2 linked regions of the Homo sapiens genome follow. The protein of the gene in region 2 interacts with the protein of the main gene of each other region in a pairwise test. Each region holds a gene or a part of one and is shown on either strand. Other genes may lie near its edges.

Region 1 (3,749 bases), on a different chromosome or scaffold from region 2:
AAAAAATTAGCCAGGCGTGGTACCATGTGCCTGTAATCCCAGTTATTCGGGAGGCTGAGGCAGGATAATTGTTTGAACCTGGGAGGCAAAGGTTGTAGTGAGCTATGATCATGCCATTGCACTCCAGCCTGGGTGACAGAGCAGGACTCCATCTTAAAAAAAAAAAAAAGAAAAAGAAAAAAGAAAATCTACCCAGACTTAGGTTCCTCACTTTAGCCTCACCACACAAAAAATGAAATGAAAACGACAGGGAGGATCTGGAACCAGAAAATAGGTGCCTCATGCCCCAACCCAAGATATCTGTTCACTTTTTTTTTCTTTTTTTTGTTTTTGTTTTTGAGATGAAGTCTCGCTCCGTCACCCAGGCTGGAGTATAGTCGCGCAATCTTAGCTCACTGCAACCTCCGCCTCCTGGGTTCAAGGAATTCTCGTGCCCCAGCCTCCTGAGTGGCTGGGATTACAGGCGTATACCACCATACCCACAATTTTTTGTATTTTCAGTAGAGATGGGGTTTCACCATGTTGGCCAGTCTGGTCTCCAACTCCTGATCTCAGGTGATCTGCCTGCCTCAGCCTCCCAAAGTGCTGGGGATTACAGGCGTGAGCCACCACGCCCAGCCTTTGTTCACTTCTTTCTGGCTGGTGATCAAATAAGTTCTAGGTAGATCCCTGATCCCTGAATCAAACTACCTTGTGTACAGATTTATGGCCTACGAAGTCCACACAGTTCCCTAAAAAACAAATGCTTTTAAACTTACCTTTTGTTTTCTCTGTCTGGTATACTTTTTCATAGTCTCGTACTGCTTCTTCATACTGTTCTGTGTCCATGTAACTGAGAAGGAAATACAAGGCAATACAGCACTAAGACATAAATAGCAGTGGTTCTCAGGATCACTCTAGGGCAAGAGGCATGGCTCAAGCAAGAGACACACACTTCTGGTAAGATGCTTCAGAAACAGGAGCCCTTAATCTAGCAGTGAGAGAAAATTAGCTAACAAGTCCTCAAGGAAATAAAAAGAGAGGTCGCATGGCACTTGCATCCAACCAGCAAAGTGATGTTCAGCTTTGAGCAGAAAGTAATCAAGAGGAAAAAGTTCCTTCTGACACACAGCCACCTAAGAGGTACTGGACTGCCTTAGAAAAGACAATGTGAAGGGATCTACTTGATTACTTTGGGTTGAAACACACAAGAGAAAAATTATCAAGTGAATAAATGGGTATGAAAGAGCTTTGAAACCTATAGTGCCATAAACATGCAGGACTAGCTACAATCCAGAATAGAGGTGGGATTAGTGAGCCACTAAAAGGATCAAGTTCAACGTGGCAGCTGCTGGCAAATCCCTCCACTAAGACCAATCAATGAGAGATGCAGGTAAATGAGACAGAAAAGGGAACTCTAAACACAGGTTTGCTTCTATTTCAGTAGCACAAAAGAAAGGAGGGGCCCTTGGCCCAAGATCGGAGGAATCAAGCTTGACAGGATGATTGCGAGATCTTTTTTTTTTTTTTTTTTTTTTGAGATGGAGTCTCGCTCTGTTGCCCAGACTGCAGTGCAGTGGTGTGATCTCGGATCACTGCAAGCTCCGCCTCCTGGGTTCACGCCATTCTCCTGCCTCAGCCTCCAGAGTAGCTGGGACTACAGGCGCCCGCCACCTCGCCCAGCTAATTTTTTATTTTTTTTTTTAGTAGAGACAGGGTTTCACCGTGTTAGCCAGGATGGTCTCCATCTCCTGACCTCGTGATCCGCCTGCCTTGACCTCCCAGAGTGTTGGGATTATAGGCGTGAGCCACCGCACCCGGCCGACTGCCAGATCTTTTAAGTGTCTCTTCCACAGAAGCAAGTGGCATTTTCCATGCCCAGATAAAATCACTGGCACCAGGGCTGGCCTACCAATTGAAGACTGTGGTAGGAGTTCCAGAGACAGCCACTGTCAGCTGGGGAATGGGAAGTGATCATGCAGTACAGCTAGCTGCTGTACAACAGAGATTCAATTTCTTACCTGCTACCACACAAGCCCATTTTCTTTCTTTTTTTTTTTTGACACAGAGTCTCACTCTGTAGCCCAGGCTGGAGTGTAATGGCACGATCTCTGCTCACTGCAACCTCCGCCTCCCAGGTTTCAAGTGATTCTCCTGCCTCAGCCTCCTGAGTAGCTGGGATTACAGGCATGTGCCACCACACCTGGCTAATTTTTTGTATTTTTAGTAGAGATGGGGTTTCACCATGTTGGCCAGGCTGGTCTCGATCTCCTGACCTGAACCGATCTGCCCGCCTCGGCCTCCCAAAGTGCTGGGATTATAGGCGTGAGCCACTGCGCCTGGCATAAGCCCATTTTCACAAACATCACAGATCCCCACCAGCTTGGAGGCCAGGGCAGGAGAGTGCTACCAATGTGGCTGGCAAAAGAGAAGCCCAACATCTTGGGCATCTTTGATTTTCTGGCATCATTTTGATTTATGACTTTAAAAAAACCAATGGCCTGCAAATACAGGACATAAATATTATATTAGGAGTTCAGAATCAATGTACAGAATAAAATGTAATAATTTGAAGTAAGAGAAATGATACTTTGATACTGCACTCCAGCCTGGGTGACAGAGCTGGATCCTGAATTAAAAAAAAAAAAAAAAGGAAAATTGATAGCTGATAGCCCTGGGTATAGAATGATGTGACAAATGATTAACCCTGATGAACTTTCTTTAGGTCTATATGTAATGTATTAAACAAACTATACTAATTTGCATTTTTACTTCATGCTTTTTAAAATTCAGGGATATCCTCACATTTTAATTTTGTTTTAAAGTTGAAGTAGAAAAGTAAATAGGGCTTTAAGGAGAAAGGGTGAACTCTAGCTCATGATGGCATGTGTAGCAAAGATGTGGGTGGGTGGCATCTCCCCAGCTTTAGGGGTAAGTTGAGGCAGACTGCAGCAGTAGTCAGGCCAGATGTAAGGGTTTGGCCCGAGCTAATCTCCAGTACTTCTTGTCAATTCCAGCTGCTTCAGGAGATTGTTGCCAAATATTCAGCCAGCTGAACAGGGCATGCTGTCTCCCCTGTAGTGATCTCAGAGGCAGAGCCACTCCAAGAAGGGCAGTTCTGTTTCTACCACAAAGATAAGAAGTTGTCTGATCAAAGCAATTCCTTATTTTCATTTCTTGCACATAAACAAAGAAGAAAATAATCCTTCATCCAATTATCCTCCGAGCAAATCAAGAATTTTCTATGGTGTTGGGGGCTTGCTTAAAAAAAAAAAAAAAAAAAAAAAAAAAAAAAAGGCCGGGCGCGGTGGCTCACACCTGCTGGTAATTCCAGAACTTTGGGAGGCCAAGACAGGCAGATCACTTGTCATCAGGAGTTTGAGAACAGCCTGGCCAACATGATGAAACCCCATCTCCAATAAAAATACAAAAATTTGCTGGGTGTGGTGACATGCGCCGGTAATCTCAGCTACTTCGGAGGCTGAAGCAGGAAATTCGCTTGAACTCAGGAGGTGGAGGTTGCAGTGAGCCAGTACGGTGCTACTGCACTCCAGCCTGAGCGACATAGCGAGACTCCATCCCGAGCGACATAGCGAGACTCCATCCCAAAAAATAAAACAAAGCGATTTTTCTCTTCTCTTCCCATCCCCTGGCATTCCATATACAGAGCATTCCATTAAGTTCATACAGTATCAAGTATCTAGCCACCCCCTTCCCACTGGACATGTAGGTGATTCTCCCCCCGCCTTTTTTTTTTTTTTTTTTTGCTA
Region 2 (3,749 bases):
AATGTGGAAGCCCAATGAGCAGGGAATAGGAAATTTACACAGTAGCTCAAATCCTGCACAATCCCAATCCTGCAGGACAACGATCACAGCATCTTAGCACTGGAAGGGTTCCCATTCATCATCCAACGCAGCCCCCTCCCCAGTGCAGAACCCTCATGACAGTCACCCTAGAGTCATCCACACTGCCCTACATACTTCCAATGACAAAATGCTCTCTGCCTTTCGGGGTAGCCTATTCCATCAATGGATAACTATTTTTAGCAAGTTTTTAATTTAGTCAAAAAGTGATACCTTTCTAATGTGTGGCTGTCATGCTAATTCTAATTCTGAACCAAGTAGCCACTCAATAAACGTTGAATGAATAAATAATGAATTCATGAACAAATAGATTCTTAAGGATCCATTGACATTTAGTGTAACAATAGTAATTACTTGAAAATCTACGTGGTTTTTTGTTTGTTTGTTTTTTTGACGGAGTCTCTCTCTGTAGCCCAGGCTGGAGTGCAGTGACATGATCTTGGCTCACTGCAACCTCTGCCTCCCAGGTTCAAGCGATTCTCCAGCCTCAGCCTCCCAAGTAGCTGGGATTACAGGCACACGCCACCATGCTCAGCTGATTTTTGTATTTTAAGTAGAGATGGGTTTCTGCCATGTTGGCCAGGATGGTCTCGAACTCCTGACCTCAGGTCATCTGCCCACCTTGGCCTCCCAAACTGCTGGAATTACAGGCATGAGCCACTGCGCCTGGCTGAAAATCTAAGTTTTTAAGAGCCATCATAGCTCAAAAAAAAGGGATTCAGTTCAATTCATTTAATGTATCTTAAGCAGGGATGAATTATACAGAACTATGAAATGAAACACAACTTAATGAAAACAGTTCTAAGTAAAAGAAGAGGAGCCAGGTTCTAACAATCACTCTGCTGCTGTTTCTCACTTTTCTCACCTGTAAAAGAAGAAGGCCAGATTACATGATCTCTACTGCCACTTACAACATTCAATACTGTACAATAAATATATGATTTATCTTCAGAGATTGCCATTCCTCACCTCGAGGAGTTTACTGTCTTATTTGCATTTCTCTGAGAGTTCAAACTTTGAACTCTGAAAATAAACGGTAAATGTCCACCCATGACAGGCAAATGTTGTGGCTTAACAGGTAGAATTTTATCCACATTTTTTTATGATGAGCAAGCACAAGGCCACGTGGCTGGAAAATTAACCTGAAGTTGACATGAGAAAAATAATGTGGGGCTACTTATTTCAATCACAGTCATGCATCACTTATTGACAGGGACACTTTCTGAGAAATGTGTCATTAGGTCATTTTGTCATGCAAACACCATAGAGTGTACTCACAAAAACCTAGATGGTATAGGCTATGACACACCTAAGCTATATTGTATAGCTACTGTTCCTAGGCTACAAACCTGTGCAGCATGTTACTGTACTGAATACTGTAGGCAGCCGTAACACAATGGTAAGTACTTTTCCATCTAAACATATCTAAACATAGACAAGGTACAGTAAAAATACACTATAAAAGATGAAAAATGGTACACCTCTATAGGAGGCTTATCATGCATGGAGCTTGCAGGACTGGAAGTTGCTCTGGGTGAGTCAGTGAGTGAGTGGTGAGTGCACGTGAGGGTTGAGGACATAATTTCATGCTACTGTATTTATAAACGCTGTACACTTAGGCTATACTAAATTCATTTAAATTTTTTTCTCAACAATAAATTATCTTTAGCGTACCATAACTTTTTTTACTTTATATATAATAATTTTTAAATTTTTTTAATTTTTTGACTTTTTTATAAAAACACAGCTTAAAACACAAATACATTGTGCAGCTGTACAAAAATATTTTTTCTTTATATCCTTATTATCCTATAAGCTCCTATTTTTAATTTTTATTTTTTTACTTTTCAAACTTTTTGTTAAAAACTAAGACACAAACACACACACTAGCCTGGGCCTACCCAGGGTCAGGATCATCACTATCCCTGCCTTCCACCTCCACACCTTGTCCCGTTGGAAGGCCTTCAAGGCAAAAACACGCATGGAGCCATCATCTCCTATGACAACAATGCCTTCTTCTGATACCTCCTGAAGGACCTGCCTGAGGCGGGTTTACAGTTAACTTTTTTTTACTAAGTAGAAGTACACAAAATAACATTAAAATGTATAGTAAATACTAGGCATTAGGAAATTGACAGCCCAGTATAATCTTATGGGACCACTCTCACATATGTGACATTGACAAAACGTCATTATGCGAGGCATGACTGCACTTATTTTGAGACTATGTCTCTGCATACATAGTTCTCAGTAGCATCATTTGTTAAATAAGGATGCCGACATCTTACCTGCCAGAACACAAGGAGTTTAGCCAACTGGTGTTTTGAAGCTTCATCTGACAATAAGTTCTGTGATTCTGTTTATAAGTCTGTGACGAGTGACCCGAGTGACTGGAGGGAGCCCCATAATGTCTAGCATCCATTTCTGAGTCATGACAAAAAGCCAAAGGGGAAATGGGGCAGGGAAAGGAAGCAGATACAGGACCAGTAGTCATATAAGGGGCTGTGCACACCATGTGAGCCCCTGCCTACCTTCTACAGCTAAATGTCAGTATTTCATTCATTGCCCAGCCACAGTTCTCCCTTCCTGCTTCTACTTGGTGTGAACATTTGAAAGCTCATTGCAAAGTCTTCGCTCAAGAGAAACAGCTGGTGAACTCTGGTTTTGAAAGAAAAAATGGATTCTGAACGGCTAAAGCATCTGGAATTTTAAAAATTACATGATTGTTGCACAGAAGTCATTCGCTAAGGAATTTTTACCACAAAGTCATTAAAGTTAGGAACTAACAACGGAAGACTCCTCGAGGCTAAAAGTCTTATATTACTAAACGGTGCTGACTGAAAAATGGCTCTTCACCGGTGGTTCCAGCTGTGCCAGGAGGGGACCCTCCTCAACCCAGGGTGGCTGCCAAGGGAATCTCTGGAAACAGTGGGCTCTGCTTGGATTCATGAGAACACAGCATATAAACTCAATTACCATCATTATTATCAAAAGAATGATTCTGGCCAGGTGCAATGGTTCACATCTGTAATCCTGGTACTTTGGGAGGTCGAGGCAGAAGTTGCTTGAGGCTCAAGGTCAATCTGGCCAAAATAAGGAGACCCCATCTTTTTTAATTAAAAAAAGAAAAAAAAAGAATGATTCTAATTCTGGTCTAATGACCCTAACCTAAAATATTACCTTTTTTTGTACTCAGAAACTTTGTGTGCTGGTCTTTAAATCTTGTTTAAAGGGCCCGGCGCAGTGGCTCATGCCTGTAATCCCAGCACTTTGGGAGGCTGAGGCGGGCAGATTACAAGGTCAGGAGATCGAGACCATGCTGATCAACATGGTGAAACCCTGTCTGTATTAAAAATACAAAAATTAGCTGGATGTGGTGGTGGGCGCCTGTAATCCCACTACTCGAGAGGCTGAGGCAGGAGAATCGCTTGAACCCAGGAGGCAGAGGTTGCAGTGAGCCGAGATCGTGCCACTGCACTCCAGCCTGGCGACAGAACGAGACTCCGTCTCAAAAAATATATATATTGTTTAAAGGTCACCATTGTACCCTCTCTTTGCTCTGAAGGTCCTGCATCAAACTTTAACCAAAACCACAATAAAATTCAAATATCAACAATTTAGTCTCTAATCCTTCTCCAATCAAAATTTTTAGATTTTAAAAAAAGAAAAAG

The links.
Region 1: the proteins of DISC1 (region 2) and DNAJC7 interact in binary tests that used the Homo sapiens proteins (3 or more experiments, as listed by UniProt).

The regions. Positions count from the first base shown.
Region 1 is NC_000017.11:41,982,805-41,986,553, forward strand, and holds part of DNAJC7 (dnaJ homolog subfamily C member 7), read right to left. Parts: intron 3,104-3,749; exon of another isoform or gene 833-3,103; coding exon 759-832; intron 1-758. UniProt on the Homo sapiens protein: Acts as a co-chaperone regulating the molecular chaperones HSP70 and HSP90 in folding of steroid receptors, such as the glucocorticoid receptor and the progesterone receptor.
Region 2 is NC_000001.11:231,629,790-231,633,538, reverse strand, and holds part of DISC1 (disrupted in schizophrenia 1 protein), read right to left. Parts: intron 1-3,749. UniProt on the Homo sapiens protein: Involved in the regulation of multiple aspects of embryonic and adult neurogenesis. Required for neural progenitor proliferation in the ventrical/subventrical zone during embryonic brain development and in the adult dentate gyrus of the hippocampus.